Homo sapiens: one gene and its partners. The protein of the gene in region 1 interacts with the protein of each later gene in a pairwise test. Each region holds a gene or a part of one and is shown on either strand. Other genes may lie near its edges.

Region 1 (7,154 bases):
AAGGAAACACACTCATCATTTTTTCCAAAAACCTTCCTCTTTGCTCACTGTATTAGTCCATTTTCATACTGCTATGAAGAAATTACCCAAGACTGGGTGATTTATAAAGAAAAAGAGGTTTAATGGACTCACAGTTCCATATGACTGAGGAAGCCTCACAATCATGGCGGAAGGTGAAGGAGGAGCAAAAACATGTCTAACATGGTGGCAGGCGAGAGAACATGTGCAGGGGAACCGCCCTTTATAAAACCAACATATCTCATGAGACTTACTCACTATCGCAAGAATAGCATGGGAAAAACCCGCCCCCATGATTCAATTACCTCCCCTTGCGTCCCTCCCACAACATGTGGGGATTATGGAAGCTACAATACAAGATGAGATTTGGGTGGGGACGCAGCCAAACCATATCACGCATCTTGTTTTTGATTGAGGAAATTGCCATGTTTGATCATTTCTCTTAACTAAGTGATGATCTTAAACAATTTCTAAATAACTTTAGCTTACTGATCTTGTCTTTATTTGAATACATTTTGATCTTTTGTTCATCATGGATTGTTTGCATTCATTTTGCATTTTTTTAAATATTGCATTCACATTAGGATTACTGAATTTTTCTGCACCTTAAATTTTGCACCTGAAGGTGAGTGTCTCACTTGCCTCACCTTAATTATGACCTTGTCACTGTTAATTTTAGAAACCTAAGAATATCAAAACTGTGGTTTGGATGCAGCTCTGCTACCAACTACTTTTTTGGATCTTGATATTTTCCTTTTACCTGACCTGGTGGCCAGCCAGCTACAATGACAAAACAGTAGAATTACAAACTCTTCCCAGGTGTGCCACTAAACTTCACCCAAGGTCAGAATTGATTGTTGCTTCAGCTGATTGTTACACTTGACAGAGACACACAGGTGAACAGTTTGCTGAAGGGTTCACAAGGCAAGAGGAATGACTCGCTTCAAAGAAGCAAAGAATGTAACCTAGGGCCAGGTCTCACAAAAGATCACAAAACGACCGGATCCTGTAAGAGCTTTGTTTCATGAGTACATAAGCGAGCCCAGTCAAGTAATAAAGAGTTCTCTCCAGCAAGGACACCACATGGAATGTGACATTTTACAAACAGTGTGAGGCTCTGCCCTACTGTATTCATGTTTGCTTTGAATTTTTGCACATTTAAAAGTTATTCAAAATATTTTACTCCCTTCAGCCAACCTCTTGTTTTACAGCATGTTTCAAACACACAAGGGCTAACTCTATATCAGATTATTTCTGAGGTTACTTTTAGCTTCAAGAAAATGAGCTTAAGATTTTTTGTTTTTTTGTTTTTTTTTTAATTGTTGATGATGCTTTAAAATTTGGATTAAGCTCCATGTGGCAGAATGGTTGCTTAGTTTCAAACTGGTCACTGGGGTGACAGCTCAGTGCAAAAATCACCATCACAGTCAGAAACACCATCCTGGACCACGAACAGCAGAAATATACCCACAGAGGAACCAAACAGACCAGCGCCTGCCACTTCTTCAAATGGTGGCCTCATCTCTCTTTCTAAAATAATTCACCCAGCAGGCATGTCTGCCTAACTACTGCCCTGGCCCTAGCTGTAACTCCTAAATCAGGTTACTGGGGGGAAAATAATTGCCAAAGTTAGGGCAAAGTCTATCTTTCTGTATTAAACAAAGTAAATGTACAATTACATTTTAAATTTTAGATAAATTTAGTAAGACTTGACAGGATCGATAATGTGCCATCAAACTCTTATGGCAATTTTATAAAGGCCAATTGTAAATGAACATACACAGAGGATGGGCAGTGTTCTGTGGGCTATTCCTTAGCTTACAGACTCTCATGTAATAGGGAAGAATTAGGAGCATTAATGACCTGGATAAAAATAGTCACACATGGAATAAAATTATCTTCAAACTAAGAACCTGGGTTGGAAGTTTGGGGTGATGTGTCTGTGTGTGCATGATGGGGGGCAAATACACTGCAGAGGAAAGAGTGGGGAGGCAGGTGCTTACAGGCTGCCGCCAAGGTCGTGGTTAGCTCTGCTTCTGCTTAATTTCTAAATCAATGATCTCGAAGAGGGACTAAGCCACTCATTAATGAATCTGTGAATGACATTAGCCTGTATAGTATTGCAAACACCCAAAAATACAGAAAAAAAAAACCCTTTTAAATGGTCTTTAAAGAGGTCAGAAACATGTCAAGAAATTACAGGAGAATTGAACTAAAGGGAGACCATGTAATACATCTGGAGTCAATAAAGGAGGACATAGATGTTCAGAATGTGGGAAAAACAAGGGAAGTGGTTAAGCGAAAAGAGTCCCAAGTGGCTAGACAATTAGACGCAAGTTTTAGAAGTCAGGGAATGCCTTTCATAAGCAGGTTAGAGAAGAGTGTTCCTTCTCTTGACGAGATTTTACCACCTTTCCCCTGGGGTGCCATACTTGGGTTTGTTTGTAAAAACTCTGTAACAGAAAAGATGTCCTTCCATTTCCTAGTCCATAAACATGATGAAATAGAACTGACCCCCTGCAAACAACAACAACAACAACAACAACAACAACAACAACAACAACGACAAATGAAGGCAGAGTATTTTTGCATTGATTCGGAGCTCTGTTCATGCTAGGAGTCACCAAGGATCCCGGGAAGAGCTGATATCAGAGGGGTATGGAAAAGAAGCAAACTGACATTCTTTCATCCAAAGCTGAAAAACAATTTCAAAAAGTGTTTATGTGTGTATGGTTTTTTTTCTGTTGTTGTTGTTTTTTTTAAAACAGATAACCAAGTTTTACAGAGGGAAGGACAAGATGAGGAAAGATATTTGAATTCTCAACATTTTCCGGCTGTGTTTCAATTCTACAGGGGTCATGGCTTTGCCTAATCCATGCCTGGGATTGGCCTTAAACTCTGTGGGAGTTCCTGTAGGGAATTCCATTTCATCTCCAATACATTTAAGTCTAATTATGAAAACAGAGTTTATCCACAGGAAAAAAAATGTAAAAACACTGCAAGAGAATACATAATACATGGCAATGTGTATAATGCCCCAAGACAGGAGCCATGGACAAGCTTTGGAGGAGAGACAATAGAGAGTGCATGTGGCCCAGAACAATCAAGGAAAGTTAATGGGATAGACGGTCCTTGGGAAGGATCACGAATGATAAATGCGATCTGGACAAGTGGGAAGTAATCCAGGTGAGAAGAACCTGAGCAAATGTGTCAATCAAGGAAGAGTAGTGATCTCTTGATGTGACCCATATGACGACCTCTATGTGAGGTTTTAAAATGATTTATTTAGAAGTCATAGGATTTTGATCGGTTAAGGAACTTAGATTTTCACCAAGTAGAAAAATCCTCTTTTCAAGATCCCTACAGCACCTACCAGCTTCTATCTGAAACACTTCCACTGATGGAGAACTGGTCAGTTTTTCAAATAGCTAGTGCTTCCCACGTTACTTTGACCTTTGGCCTTGTTCTGCCTTTCAGTGTAACGTATATCACATTTGCTTACTCAAAACATGACACACACATCCCCAAATTAAAGACAGCATTGGGTGGTTCCTCCCTTGTTTTTATCTTTGTCTTTGGTTCTTCCAATTGTCTTCCTGGGTAGTCCAGATGGTGGTAAAAGATCTACCCAGGATGCCTTCTAGTTTGTTAAGGTCCCTTTGAAAACCCGTACCTGGAAGTGAAGTTATCCTGTTTTGGTTTGGAGGACTCAGGATTCAGTGGAGTGATCACTTCCTTAACCAGGATACTATGTGTTTACTAATGCAATCTATGATGGTTTTTACTGTTTTGTCTTATTAGATATCTCACACTGTTGACTGGAAGAACTCAGTAGGCCTTTAGAGTACAAAACACTTACTACTGTGGCATGAACATAGAAATAAATGAAGGTAGTGATGATGGCTGCCAATTCTGACTCTCCTTGCCTGTACTTTGCTCAGTATTTCAGCCTCCAAGTGGACAAGAAATCTCTCCATAAGTAGTTGGAAGAGCTTGTGTATATGGTTGTCAGCTGGGGATACAGTGGGTAGAATGAGGGTCCCTGCAAAAGATATATCCATGTCTTAACCCCAGAACCTGTGACTATGACCTTACAGGAAAACGATCTAAGAAGGTGTCATGAGGTTTAGGATCTTGAGATGAGATCATTCTGGATTATCTGAGTGGGTCCTAAATTCAATGACAGATGTCCTTAGACACTTATAAGACAGGAGGAGAAGACACAAACGCAGAGGAGAAGGTGATGTGAGGAGAGAGGCAGAGATTGGAATTATGCACCCACAAGCTAAGGAATGTCTAGAGCTACTAGAAACTGAAAGAGACCAGAGAAGACCCTCTCCTGGAGCCTTCAGAGGAGTGTGGCCCTGCTGTTACCTTTATTTCAAACTTCCAGCCTCCAGAACTGTGAGACAATAAATGGGAGTTGTTTTAAGCCACCAAGTTTATGGGTATTTGTTATGGCAGCCCTAGAAATACAGGGGTTACATATTTCCAGGGGTATTCCTGCAGGAATGGGGTGAATGCTCCCAACGATCCTTTCCAACACTTCTCTATAGGGCTTAGAAATAGGGAAAAATATTTGGAGACAGCAGCCACATAGATTGCTACATATTTAGCAACTCTACCCTATTAGAAAATGTATTAATTTCCCTTTAATTCATTAATAAGTTAGAATACAGATGCTTTCAGAGATGACTGTTAGACTAAATTTGCAAAGGGCCTCAAGGGAAAAAAAAAAGGCCACAGATAGAATGGCTGAGTGTGTGTATGTTGTGGAAGATGTAATATAAGTCAGACAATCATATTTAATGAGGAGTCTGAAAACACATGGTGACTCATGTATTCATGCGAGTATGCAGGAGCCTAAACATGCTGCGCTCTATTCAGAAAAGGCCACGTGACTGTCAAAAGCAGTCATAAGCAAGTTATGCAAATCATCTCAGCAGATAGCAATGACATATTTAGACCTCCCCATCATGCATGTGCTATTGTGCCAAGAAGCTATTAAAGAAAATTCTTGGAGAGTTTCGACTCTGCTGCTGGTGAAGTCTTTTGTGTGCCTGTGACAAATGCGTCAAACACAAGAAGCAAATAAGAGTCACTTGAAAAAAATCATGGAGTCTAAGTCCACATATTCTAAGTCACAAATTAGTGATGTTACCAAAAATGTCCCCGGTTAATTGGGATAGAACTTGCTCCCACTGTTAGAAGTGTACTAGTCAGCCTACCATGCCAAGGAACTTGGCTTTCTAGAGCAGAGAGAAGTTCTTTCAGATGGATAGGTGAAGAAGGGCAAAGGCAAAGAGAACAAGAGTAAACAGATGATTGTAAAAACTGCAAATCTCAAATTGGTGGATCATCTTGTCTACCTTCTACCTGAGGCAGAAATTCTTTTTAGAATATAAAATAAAAAATAATGATTATTACTATTTAATGAGCAGTTTGCAATATGCAAGATACTGTGCTGGGTATTCAACATGTTTTTTCATTTAATCTAAAATAATCCTATGAGATCATTAAGGTAATCTTCACTTTACAGATGAGTGTATGTGCAGCTGAAAAACACAAATCCTCTTTGTCATTCATTTATTAATTCATTCACTCATCCAGCAAACATACACCATGCACTAAATATGCCAAAAAAAATGATCACCTTCAGTGACAAGAAACTCAGTATCCCAAAAGGCAACCTACTACATTTTCGGACAACTCTAATTCATAGAAAGTTCTTCCTCTTACTGATCTGAAGTGTGTATCTGTGTAACTAACCAAATAGGTCACTGTGGTGTCCTCATGTCACACAGAACAAAATGGAGGAAAGGGTAAACACAGAAAGTTTACGGGAGACAACAAACGTTTTCTGTTCCTGATTTCAGCTCAGTGTAGTTTTCCACATTTTATGGTTTTTTTATGGTTTTCATGTCAACCCTATTCTTTGGGGATAGTTAATGATTAAATCATATTAACCCAGGAACAGTGACACAGTCTTCCTTCCAAACAGTTTTGAAAAGCCTTTGATACTTTGGAGGCATTGTCAGAGGACAATAAATTTGCCAACCACATAAAAGAGAGTCTATGTAATGTCAGTACATAAATATTAGGAATAGTTGTATGCTACTGGGAAGTCCATGAATACTGAGGCAATGAGGAGGACACACTTTAGAGCATCTCTTATGTGTCCTCGCCTTGCCAGCATCTTACAGACGGCATTTCGAGTAGTCAAGATCGTATCCTGGTCAAGAGAGTGAAAGGAAAAAAAAAGTAGTCAAGATCCCACCAGACCCTATTTTCTCCACTTTAAGTGAGGAATTCAAATATAGAAAGGAAGTCTTAGCCAAGGTCTTGGAGACAAGGAGACAGTGACAGGTGAAGCCAGGAAATCACCGCTCCAGGAAGACCCGCTGTTTACTCACATCACAGAAGCCCACTCCCCACAGGTTTATGAAAGACCAGGCATTTCCACTGGCAGCCACTCTACCCTGGAACTCCAAGAGAAACAACACAATCTTTGTTAACAGGTTTTCCTCCTCTGCCTTTGGGAGCCTTTTGGGAAATCTTTTTTTGCTCAGTCTTTGGCCCTCAACGTACTACCGTTTCCATCATTATTACATCCAGATAGTAGCATGACCTAAGATGTCTAACTGTAAGCAATATAAAAATGTTTAAAATAATATAACAATAGTTAACACTCACTGAACATTTAAAATATGCCAGGCACTTTCCATGTAATTATTTCAATTATTCCTCCCAACAGCTCTGAGTCTGGGAAGTATTTCATTTCCCAGCTGATGAAACCAAAGCAAAGAAATATTAAGGAACTTATTTAGGCTAGCAACTACATGGTAGAACTGGGTCTGATACACAGACCTGTCTGATACTATCAACTATGCCTTCCTTTCAATATTTACAAGTAACACTGTGGCAGGTACCATTCCAAGCACTTTACACATTTCAACCCATTTCATCTTCATGATAACCCTATTACACAGCTGATGAGAGCAGCTTAAAGAATCTGTCCCAGGTCACACAGGTAGCACATGGTAGATCTGGGTTTCAAAAACCCAGGTAGGCAGCCTGATGCCAGAGACCAGACCACTATTCTAAAGCAGTAGCATTGCCCCACCTAGAATGGAATG
Region 2 (7,000 bases), on another chromosome or scaffold:
TGGAAAGACCTTTAAATCTAACATTATCAGAATCCCCCTGCTGTATTCAAGTCAAAGGACCAAAAATGGACATGAAAATTGCCAATGAAACCCTTCCATCAATGAATACGTTTTTACAAATATTATCTAAATTCTCATTATATTTGTTGTAACAACCTGTTTTATACCAACTAGAAAGAACACTAAGTTATTGTGTATGGTTTTAATTTCCTGGACCCAGGAATCTTCCAGTTTAATCAAATTCAACATGGACTCATTTAATGACTACTCAAGTGTTTATGTATTATTCAACAGATTTGTCTTAGAGAACTTAAAACAATATAGTACATTGATTGTTTCAGTTCTTAAAGATATTTACAAAAACATGTTTTAGTTCAACATGTATGCAAAGGTAACTTAACAGTTACTACACTATCATTAAACATCTTTTTGTTTTGGTGTACATTCCTGCATGAGTTACGCAGTTCTGTAAATGACCTATCAAACTATAATGTAGAGTATATATACTTTCCAGTAGGCCATATATTTGATACCTGATAACATCAGAAGTTAAAGTTTCACAGCATTAATGCTGTGGATCACGGTCTCCAAATAATCCCTCTCTGTGGCAGAATTCCTTTTTATTTTAATTGGTACTAATGAACTTTTGAATCTGAATTTATTTCTATGACTGACAAAAGTTCTCTTCATTTGATTTCAGCCCCTATCTGTTTCTCTGACTTGCCTCAAATTACAGATTAAAGTAAACCACTTGGATTAGCTGTGCAGTTGTTTCTGGATAGGAGTATGACAACTTCATTCTCAATCACCCAATAATTATTTTTAAAAGACTGTTAACTACTTCATAAATAAAGTACTGTATAAAATGTTTGGCAACAATAAAAGAATTCAACCAATGTGGTTTCCCTTTGAAAGACTGAAAATGTTGTTTTTAAGGAATAAATGAACTGCCACACTGGATAGGAGAAAAAAACCAAATCCTAAGAATAATCATGCTTCCTAACCACAGTAACATAGTTAAGGATAAGAAATACTTCACTTGTTGAATGCTCCATAGGATTACATTCAGAGCATGCATACTATGGATCTATCCTTGCTTCCTGTCCTCACTGATGATTCACTTAAGGCCTGATTCTCATCCACCTTTGTAGGACTCTCCAATGTAGACCTCTCTCTTGGACAGGAAGGAGAAGGCCTAATGCAGGAGGAATCGGGAAACAGAACACTGGGCTTTGCAAACAAACCTACACATCTTTGGAAGGTGAGGGACATTCTGTTAACCTGTATCCTAAAGGATGTATCTGCTGTTAAAGATGTGTAGCCAGCACCCCAGATGGGATGTTAAGAATAAAAAGATACACACAAAGAAAAACTCAAAAGCAAAACAATGTAAGTTATAAATAAGAAAATAAGTAAATCTCTCAGAAGTGTTCTGTGAAGAAGTGATGACCTCTTCCAGGGACTTTGCCTCATGATAGAATGAACTAAAATGAGTTGTCACATACATAAGACTCCCCGCCCCACCACCAAAATAAAACTGTCCCAAATGAGAAGCAACATTATAAAATTCACCTGAGAAAAAAAAAGTAAACAGAGTCACTTACCCTTTACACTAACTGTAATATAGGGATCGATGCACTGCCCAGCATCTTTCAAACCAATTTTCTCAATTCTGATAGTGAGTAATGTCATTCCTGGTTCCGATGGCAACCTTGGTAATAAAGTACCTGGCAACAGAGAAAAAGCAATAAAAGCTCCATATCATTTCACAGTAAACATTTTAATGAACACAGAGAAGATACAGCCTTGCTTGTAACTGACTTAGTAACTAGCCAGGCATTATTTTGGTTCCCGAAACTCCCAAACGCTTGGCATTATTTTTCCAAATGTTTAATTATATGTAAGAGAAATCTGCACTTCCATGTCTCATAGTCACCACTAAAGCAGAAATTATTCAAGTCTGGCAGAAATTTAAGTCACTCCAGGAAGCCCAATTATAAATTACCACATAATTAATAATAAACTCACATACATACACTTTGTATATGCTCATTTATATAATATACTTCTCATCTCAATATGAAGTGGTAGAAGAAAAAACTTTAAAAATATTTGTTATATTATCCTAACATTTGAGAAATATAATACCAGAGTTGATCAACAAATGCTTTACTTTTTTTTTGACACAGTGTCTCACTCTGTCACCCAGGCTGGAGTGCAGTGGCACAATCACAGCTCACTGCAGCCTCGACCTCCCAGGTTCAAGCGATCCTCCCACCTCAGCCTCCCGAGTACCAGGGACTACAGGCATTTGCCACTAGTTACTATTGATATAGGAAATAATTTACAACTTAATAATTGTGTATTTAATGGAATAATTTTACAGTCTAATTTCCCATTCTTTTCCTTATGAACACTGAAGCAAAAAAACCACAAAAAAAAACAAACAAAAAAAAACCCATCCGTTGAAATTGCAATGAAGTTTAGATCAATTTTAGAAAGAACCACATCTTTAGAAATTGCTTCTTCCAATCCATCAACTGATATCTCTCAACTTTTTAAAGACTTCTTAATTTTCTCAATAGAATTTTTTTCTTTTCTTCACAAAAGTCTTATACTTCTTTTGTTGGGTTTATTATAAGATACTTGATATTTTCTGATACTATTATAGACGTTATAATATTTCATTTTCTGAGCACTTATTGCTTATTTAAAGAGAGAGGATCGATTTTTTAATAATACCTCTGCTGGCAGGAAGAACTGATTTTTATGTACAGATTTTATACTCAGGAACCCTACTCTCTTATTAATACTAATGACTTATCCATAGGTTCTCTTTCATGTTCTAAATACATATTCATAACATCTGCAAATAAAGGGACAGGTTTCCCCCCCTCTAATTTTTATATTTTATTTCTTTTTCTTATACTAGTACACTGGCCAGAACTTCTAAAGCACTGTTGAGGAAAATAGTTAACAGGAGGCACCCTTGTTTTGTTCCTGATCTGAAAAGGAAAGCTTTCCATTTTATCATTAAATATGACTGAGGCGCTAAATGTCATTACAGCTACCTTTTATCAGATTAAGAATGTTCTGTTCTTGGTCTGCTAAGAAAGTTTTAAAATCATGAAAGAAATTAGAATGTAATTGAAAAATTTTTCTGCATCTCTTGAGATCATGGGATTCTTCTCCTTAATCTGCTAATGTGAATTACCTTGATATATGTATCTTGCTGATTTAACAATATATTCTGAAAAAAAAAATCACTCAATAGTTCATGGAGATTTTCCTAATTATTTTCTGTAATAGTCCATGTATTGGCTATTTATTCAGCCAATCTTCGTATGGCAGTTAGGTTGTTTCTAATATATTACTATTACCAAAAACACCTCAATAGAGAACCTGGTGTATATGTAAGTATTTAAAAAAAAATTTTTTACACATTATTGGAGGTGTATCTTCAGAGTAAATTCCTAGGAACAGGATTGCTAAACTAAGAAAAATTGTATATTTTTGTTGTTGCTGAGCTATTGCTGAACTCTCCTTTAAAGGGACTATTACCACTTTCTATTCCCACCAGTGATAAATGAGCCCATTTCCCTGTTGTCTCAGCAACAGGGAACTGCCATATAAGGCATCTGCATGTCTTTTATCATATGTAAAGTTGAGTATCTTCTAATACATTTAAGAGCTATTTGTATATCTTGGGGTGTGTGTGTGTGTGTGTGTGTGTGTGTGTGTGTGTACTATCTGTTCATGTCTTTTGCCCAATTTTCTAATGTGTTTGGGGTCTTTGTTGTCACAACTTAAAATTTTCTTTATATATTAAGAATATTAGTCGTTTGTCATTTTGATTTTGATTATGGTGTTTTCTGACAGACAAAAGAGACAAGTTCTTTTTATGATAGACTATTTTCTCCCAAGTAAACATTAAAAATTCTTCTACCTTTAGGTGAATCAGTTTCATAACCTGTAATTGTCTAGATCTTTTAGTTGAAATAATGAGGCTGACATTTCTTTCTTCCTTACCAACAAACTTTTTTTTTGCCTGAGAATATAATAAGGTTTAATCTAACTACTAAATATATTTCTAACAATGTAATATGGAGGCAGTGATTCCAAGCTGGAAAGATACTTAATTTATTCAGTTCTTCCCTAATTCAAGGTAGAACATAAAACATTTCATCTCCACCATGAAGGTTCAGTAGTTTTATCTTTACTAAGGAACAGCTGAAGCTATGTGATTAAGACGACAGGTAATAGAGAAAGGTGTATTTCTCAGTGGTTTCTAATGTGCTCTCTCCCTGCCTAGTCAACTCCTACACTCCCTTTGAGTCTCAGTTCTGGCTAGATTACCTTTGCTAAACTCTGTCAGTCCTTTTTTCGTTCACTCATAATATACTGTGTCCACCTCTAACCATGATGATGTACTTTTTTTGGCTCTGTCTTACATGGTGAGCATCCTGAAAGACGGGATGAGTAACTGTTCATTTTTGTATTGTTTTCACTAGTAATAAAGAGATCTTTGTTTTAGAACTCTTTTATCATTTGTTGAATGATAAATGAATTTTACAGTTCTAGAGGTTATTATGCTCTATAAACATGTGGCCTGAAAACATATATCAATGTACTGCCTTATATAATATGCACGAAAGAAGATAAAATACTAGGATAATACCACACCATTCCAGGGTTAGATGAAAAAGTTAACATATTTGTGTATCAAAGATAAAAACATACAATAATTAAAAATCAAGGCAATGTATTAAAAGCAAGATTTCTAAAAGAAGAATGAACACATTCAACTGTATAGAGTAATATGAGAATAAGTAACTACATTTATAAAACTTGAAGACTGTAACTGAAGTAAGAAAAGAAATCATACATGAGCCATGAAAAACTGCGTGTTTCCAGCTAGATCATTTGCTGTTAGATCTAAAGTGAGGATCAGAAATAATAAATGTTCTTCCATATGGAAAAGCTGCATAAATAATAAACAGCCAACTTTTACAGAACATGTCAGGGTGTGCCAGGCACTGTTCTAATCCTTTACATGTACTAACTCATTTAATCCTCCCAACAACCCTATAACACAGGTGCTATAGCACCCTATAACAAGGTGTCCCATTTTTTCAGAAGTGAAAACTAAGACAGAAAAGTTAAGTAATCTGCCCACAATCATATAGCAGTTTGGCACGGGATTCCATGCTTGTAACCACCACACCTCATTTGGCCATTTCTTCATTGTCCATAGAGCCTACACAGGAGCTGTGAAATGACCTCCCCATCTCAAGGTCCTTCACATAATCACATCTGCAAAGTCTCTGTTGCCGTGTAATGTAAGAAACATATGCACAGATTCTGAGGATTGGGATGTGGACATCTTTGGGAAGGGATGCATTATTTCTGCCTCACACTTCTAAATATGAAAAGCTCTGTATGGCTACAACTGTCTAAATCAAGATTTCTCAACCTGGGTTCTGTGGAATCCCAGGGTGTCCCTGAACTCGCTAGGAGCTCCACGCAAAAGAGTGATTTCTATCAATGCACTGCCTTTAAATATGCACTAAAGACAATAAAATACGAGGATAATACTACACCATCTGCAGCCCCTGCAATGGGCTTTGTACACTGAGCAATGCAGGTTCACAGTGATGGAAAGAGACTATGCAGCCCCTATAGCAATTTTATTATAGGTCTTTGAGCCTCATATGGCAGTAAGCAGTTAAGATTATGTTCACTTGACTTGGTCCATTTAGTATTTTTTTTTTCAGGAGACAGGGGAAGCCACTGGTAGCTGATGAGCTCTATACAGCAGTCTGACGTCAGCCTCTTCAGCTTTACCTGCCCCAACCTTCCCTTATGCACCAACAGCTGAAGCAAACATGCTCTACTTGTAGCAAAGAAAACTGGAGGAAATTTTTCAATTCAATGTGATTTCTAAAGAAGAGGTATGAGCTAGGAGAGGAAGGTTCTAAGCCTAAGCATAGAGACAATTCTCCCTAAGTAAAAACAATGAATTTCAAGCTTCTGAATCATTTCACTGCACTAGTGCACTGGGAAAAACAAAAAAGTCCATTTAATGATGAGACCTACTTATTAATATGGTTGTACCTGGATGGATAATTTCCAAGTTGCCTCATCTGTGAAAAACACTTTATCAATGCAGCAATGGATCCAACAAAATCGAGAAATCGCAACTACAAGTCACAACCATTGATAAGTAAAGACACCGATTATTTTGATATCCTAATGGCCATTTAAAATAGAGTAAAGCTTTTTTTTTTTCTAAAGTAATGTTCACTTAAAAAAGGCTCAAAAAGGAAATTACTTAGTAGCAGAGCTTAATGCCCAGAGGAAGAAAAGTCACACAGTGGGCAAGGATCTCATAATGCCTGCATGTGAAATTACAAGACGTTTTTAGCACAAGATATAGTATAAGAAATTTAAAAGGCTCTATTCCCAAACCGCGCAATAAGTGGACACAAGAGATGACTTTTCATATCCTGAAGAGGTTTTGTGATAAACTATAAAAAAAAAGCTTCTCTATTGAGTCTAAAAATTTTACCAATAAATGACATGCTATAGCATTTGTAAGGTCTATAAAGAATGGTGTACTCAAGAAAACTGTTTCTGCTGTGAAGTCCCCAAACAAGCAAAGGCCAAGCTGGATTTCACGCCCTGTCCTCACGTGTACCTCTGAGGAACTGCCCTGGGCTGTACACTGTGGTGTCAAACAGAAAACGCTGACACTGTCAACTCATGGCTTTCTTCACTGAAGTGCTGCTATCAAAATTCTCACAAATAAAATGAAAACTGGTTCTAGGTATCAGAGAAATGGCTAAGTTTATTCAACAAAGACCAGTTCACTCAAGAATGTTTTGAAAATTGGCCGGGCATGGTGGCTTACACCTGTAATCCCAGCACTTTGGGAGGCCAAGGTGGGTGGATTACCTGAGGTCAGGAGTTTGAGATCAGCCTGGCCAACATGGTGAAACTC
Region 3 (5,355 bases), on another chromosome or scaffold:
TTAGTGCTATAAATTTCCCTCTACACACTGCTTCAAATGTGTCCCAGAGATTCTGGTATGTTGTGTCTTTGTTCTCATTGGTTTCAAAGAACATCTTTATTTCTGCCTTCATTTCGTTATTTACCCAGTAGTGTTGACATATTTTTAATGTAGAATTAAATTTAATGAACCATTCTTTCTGGAAATCAACTGTATTTTGGTTTCACTGCCTATCGAATATAGCATTTTAGCTGGTTTCTCAAGGTTAAGATTTCCAACTTCTCACCAAAAACCTACAGGTATCTCAAACAAGTGATGATCTCAGGAATGTGAATAATTGGCAGGAAAAGGAGACAGATGTGGCAGGTTACAGAAAGAACCAAAAGAAGATCCAAGTTGTTAACCATTGTTGTCAACACACTACTGTAATTTTTTTCTAAATTTAAAAAACCTTATATTGTAAAGAAACAAGTAACCATTCTGAAACCTAAGAACAAAAATCAAAAGACCTTAAAACAATCTTGAGAAAATCTGTCACAAGGCAAAATTTTATTTTTTCAAGTTACAAAAATAGGAGCATGTCAAAAATACAGTCTAGTCCTTATACGAGTAGTTCCAGCCATTTAAAAGTTATACAGAGTTTGGAAAAAGCAGTTTATATACAAGTCTTAAAACACAACAATCATGAACAATGCACACCGTTCAATGTAGTTATTGCTAGTTATATGCAGCTTTTAGTTACCATTGTTCTTCTCTGTAAGGGAAAGGACAGCATTTGGACATTCTGATTGTTGCTGCTGAAGCTGTGGTTTTGGAAAATCAATCCAAAATAAGAATAAGCTCACTATGAGTAGAATAAAACGTGTAAGTTTCAATCAGTACTACAAGAAAGCATGGTTTAAATTTGAGTTCCATACAATTCTACATAACTCTATTTTGTTACTATAACAGAAATACAGTGTATAGTTTTGGGCAAGAGTAAATGAATTACTGGTTTTATAATTAAGTGAAAAGAAACAGTTTTTGGTTGCAATGTAGAAACAAAGCTGGCATATCTAGCTTACAAACATTAAAAAATGGAAAAGATATTTAATGTTTAAGCAAAAGCTGAACCTAGGTTATTTACCTTTAGAAATTAAGAGATAAAGTTAAGCATTTTGTTCTTTTGAGGATTATCATGAAGATTTGCTATTCTCTATTTTCTTTTTAAAAAGAAGAGTTATCCACATAGCGGGAACATATTTTGAAACAGATCTATTTGCTCAATGTCATATGGAAGAACAAATCACAAAATTAAATAATTCTACCTTTAAATAATTAAAGATAATGCAGTTGACAGTACAAAGCACTGGGAAAAAATCACTTATTTGGGGGATGTGTGATACATAAGAAACTTTGGGCCTAAAGTTCACATGGAAGACTGGAAGACTTAAAATTTAAGGGTGTCACCAAAAGATAACAATGGCTTTGACTCCAACTCTCATGTTAGACCCTGTTAAAAGGTTAGGTTTATTGCTGTTATTTTACCCCAGTAAGTTATTGAATAAATGGAGATATACATTGGTGATAAGTATGAGGTGAAGTAAAAAGATCTAAAAATATTAGTCTTAGAACAAAAATGACACTCATGATCACTTGGCAAGGATACTTATTTACTTAGTGATTTAAATCCTAAAAATAAGCTACATTTTTAGGAGGTAGAAAACAAGTACCAATAGTTTACCATTTGGCCACCCTCCTTACTTTTGGCTTCAGCCTTGGATTTCTATTTCTCATTCCCTATTCTCCTGTTAAAGCTATTAGTTCTACTACCATTCATTACCTAAATGTATAGACCTGGAGCTGCCAAGAAAAATCTTTTTAGGAAGCTTTGCTTTTAAGCCACCAAATGCACCCAATACTCAGATATCAACTGAGAACGTTTTGCACCTCTCTAGTTGATTAATTTACTTCACACAAAAAAATGCCAAAACAAAAATTACTTAAAATGAAAAACGACCACTGAACATCTCTATATGCAATTCCAGTATGTCAGAGTAGTTATGTAAACCTAAATCTGTACTATTTTCACTGAACTGATTTGAAAAAGCCATATATTAAAATGGCATTACCAGTGTTAACTGAAAACAGGCAACGTGTTTTACTAGAAAATTAACCTAATAACCAAAAAACTCCACTTCTTCCCAGAGTGTTATATTGTGCTGACATCCCATAGATAATATTATAAAAAGATTTTATTTTTGCAATAGGCTGGGTTCACAGTGAGTATGTTAGTACCAAGATCATGTGTTTAATATTATTATAAGAATGTCATTAGTGGAATGTATATAAGGCATGTAAAAAAATAGTTTTAAAGCTCTTAGAGGGCAATGCTCCAAACTGGCAGCTGCTAGAAAAGGTGCTGACAGGAATAGAAAATATTAAAGAAATTTAGTTTCAGCACATATTATAGTGCTTCTACAATCAAAATAATTCACATAAATTTCAATTGCTGGAACTAATGGACCAAATGAGAATGGACTTTTGCCCCTTTAACTACTAGACCAATCTTGAAAACGGAAGCAATCACTTGCAATCTTCCACACAGTATTGTTGGGAGTGGACTGAGCAGTCAGCAGGAAGTTCTGGTTGAAGAAATGTTGTTTGTTTCCATCAAACTTCACAGTTCCACTGGTCACAACAAGAACTGTAGTTTGGGACTGAGTTGCTTGCTCTTCATCCACATTAAAAAAAAAAGAGAACACATCATTTTCTATCTCTAAATAAGCAGATTTTCAGGCTTAAAATACATTGTTTATGGACTAATGCTTAAAATTTTTTTCATACACTTTCTGTCCCTTGAGCATAATCTTAAGCATGCATACTCAAACCCAGAAAACTAAGTACTTAGTAAAAGATATTAAAATTATTTTCAGTCCAGAAAACTTTGGGATACTCTAGTTTCAAAATGAGGAGCTTATATCTAGCATAGGACCATTTGCTTCATATATATATAAATATTTCAGAATTAATATTTCAGGTTTCTAACAGAGCTTATTCATGCTTTGCTTCTTAAACTATTGTTCTTTTCAGGAATTATAAAGGAAAAAAATCACCCTGAACTACAATTTAAGACACTTAGGACCCCACCTAGAGGTTTTATTAAACTGTATCAATCTACCTGGAATCAAATTTTCTTGTAAAAAGTCATCCTTTCACATAACAGAGTAAATTTCTGTGAAATATTAGTAGATTGTAAGATACTGAACACATTAATCAGAGATATGGTATAATTTTACTCTGGAGACATTTCAGGGTCCAGCAGGCAACTATTTAGAGAAATCAGATAATCTTTCCCTGCCATTTACAAAAATCACATTAATCTCAACTTTTCATACAACTTTTAATAAGCCAAAATCACATAATCCATCAAAAGCTACTAGTGGAAAGAATCTGAAGGAAGACCAAAGTTTGACTGGACAGTTACATTTTTCATAATATTTAACTTGCTCAAGTAAGTAAATAGTTCTACCACTAAAAGTTTCTCGCTGCTTTTGGTGTAAAAGCTCAGTGCTTACTAGAGGAAAACAAAGGAAGCATCTTGAAAGATCATGATCTTACCATGAACTGGTTGGCAATCTAACATATTGACCTGGAACTCACTAGAAGGCAATGTGTCAAAAAAATTATTTAGGGCATCCAGCCCTGAAACAGCATTTCCATTCCATATTAAGGTGGCCTTGTCCAGATACAGCCTGGTTAGTGCCTAAAAAGAAAGACAAATTTAAAAAAGGGAAATAATTCTGTTTCTAGATAAACATTTTATAGAAATGGATTAAAATATTACAGATGGTATATAAACATTTTTTGTAGTTCTACCTTCATCTCCACTCCCCTTGCTCCATCTCCACTGGAAACCCATGTGAACAAAACGTCTGTCTTATAATCTTGGCCTTAAATAAATATCACCTTACTCTTTATAAACTAGGCAGTAAAATATATTTTTTCATATTTCACTTTAGACACAATAAAACCTTCCACCCAATTAAGTTCTGCTTTCTGTATTCAAATGAATTAAATGATCACAAATTCCAAGCAAATGCAGCCCCAAGCCAGTTTTAGTGTGTCTTCCTTTTGTAATTATGAGAATTAACAAAGTTTTTGATCAAGCCCTACCTGTACCCTTTAATGCTAGTGGCTATATATATATATGAAACATTTAATATTTGCATGTGTTAGAAAGAATTAGTTCACTACTCCCACTTTTTAGAGAAGAGGTTTATGTTTTCTTAAAAATTATTCTGTTTTTTAAAAAAATTGAGACAGGGTCCTGCTCTGTTGCCTCAGGCTGGTCTCAAACTCTTGGGGTCAAGAAATCCTCTTGCCTCAGCCTCCCAAGTAGCTGGGGTTACAGGCATGTCATACCATGCTCGGCTATAGTACTACTCTATTAGTGTACTTAGTTCAAAAGAATCATGAGTACTTGCTAAAGCAGAGACTTCGATAAGTCAAATAAGTTAAGGCCCAAATGAGGCAGAAATTCCACAGTTAAAACTCTGGGGTCACAAGACACACTATTAGCTTAATTCTATAATGTAACTTGGGTTAAAAGGCCAGGCAGGCATGGTGGCTCACGCCTATAATACCAGCACTTTGGGAGGCTGAGGCGGGTGGATCATGAGGTAAGGAGTTCAAGACCAGCCTGGTCAAGATGGTGAAACCCCATCTCTACTAAAACTACAAAAATTAGCCGGGCGTGGTGGCAGTTGCCTGTAATCCCAGCTACTTGGGAGGCTGAGGCAGGAGAATCGCTTGAACCCGGGAGGCAGAGGTTGCAGTTAGCCAAGATCGCGCCACTGCACTCCAACCTGGGTGACAGAGTGAGACACCATCTCAAAAAAAAATAAATAAATAAAAATAAAAAAAAAGGTCAACACATATATTGACACTGGTAATAAACAATGTTGTCTTTTTTTTTCTACTTTATTTTTTGAAAGCAGTAAGGTACAATACACATTCAAGGCAAGGCACAATAAACATCCATTGTCACAACCCTTTTCCCTGACATCAAATATCAGTACAAGAAACTTCTTTTATCTTTTGCCTTAAAAAATTGGTTTTCACCTGACAAAAACAAGCAATGGGGAAAGGATTCCCTATTTAATAAATGGTGCTGGGAAAACTGGCTAGTCATATGCAGAAAACTGAAACTGGACCCCTTCCTTACACTTTATACAAAAATTAACTCAAGATGGATTAAACACTTAAACGTAACACCCAAAACCATAAACCTAGGCAATATCATTCAGGACACAGGCATGGGCAAAGAGTTCATGACTAAAACACCAAAAGCAATGGCAATAAAAACCAAAATTGACAAATGGGATCTAATTAAAC

The links. Proteins that work in one complex are often made in the same cells at the same time.
Region 2: the proteins of LNX1 (region 1) and AIDA interact in binary tests that used the Homo sapiens proteins (3 or more experiments, as listed by UniProt).
Region 3: the proteins of LNX1 (region 1) and NXT2 interact in binary tests that used the Homo sapiens proteins (3 or more experiments, as listed by UniProt).

Annotation. Positions count from the first base shown.
Region 1 is NC_000004.12:53,581,393-53,588,546, forward strand, and holds part of LNX1 (E3 ubiquitin-protein ligase LNX), read right to left. Parts: intron 1-7,154.
Region 2 is NC_000001.11:222,674,492-222,681,491, forward strand, and holds part of AIDA (axin interactor, dorsalization-associated protein), read right to left. Parts: intron 1,728-7,000; coding exon 1,605-1,727; intron 1-1,604. UniProt on the Homo sapiens protein: Acts as a ventralizing factor during embryogenesis. Inhibits axin-mediated JNK activation by binding axin and disrupting axin homodimerization. This in turn antagonizes a Wnt/beta-catenin-independent dorsalization pathway activated by AXIN/JNK-signaling.
Region 3 is NC_000023.11:109,539,844-109,545,198, reverse strand, and holds the end of NXT2 (NTF2-related export protein 2), read right to left. Parts: intron 3,725-5,355; coding exon 3,580-3,724; intron 2,693-3,579; coding exon 2,511-2,692; 3' UTR 501-2,510; downstream 1-500. UniProt on the Homo sapiens protein: Regulator of protein export for NES-containing proteins. Also plays a role in mRNA nuclear export.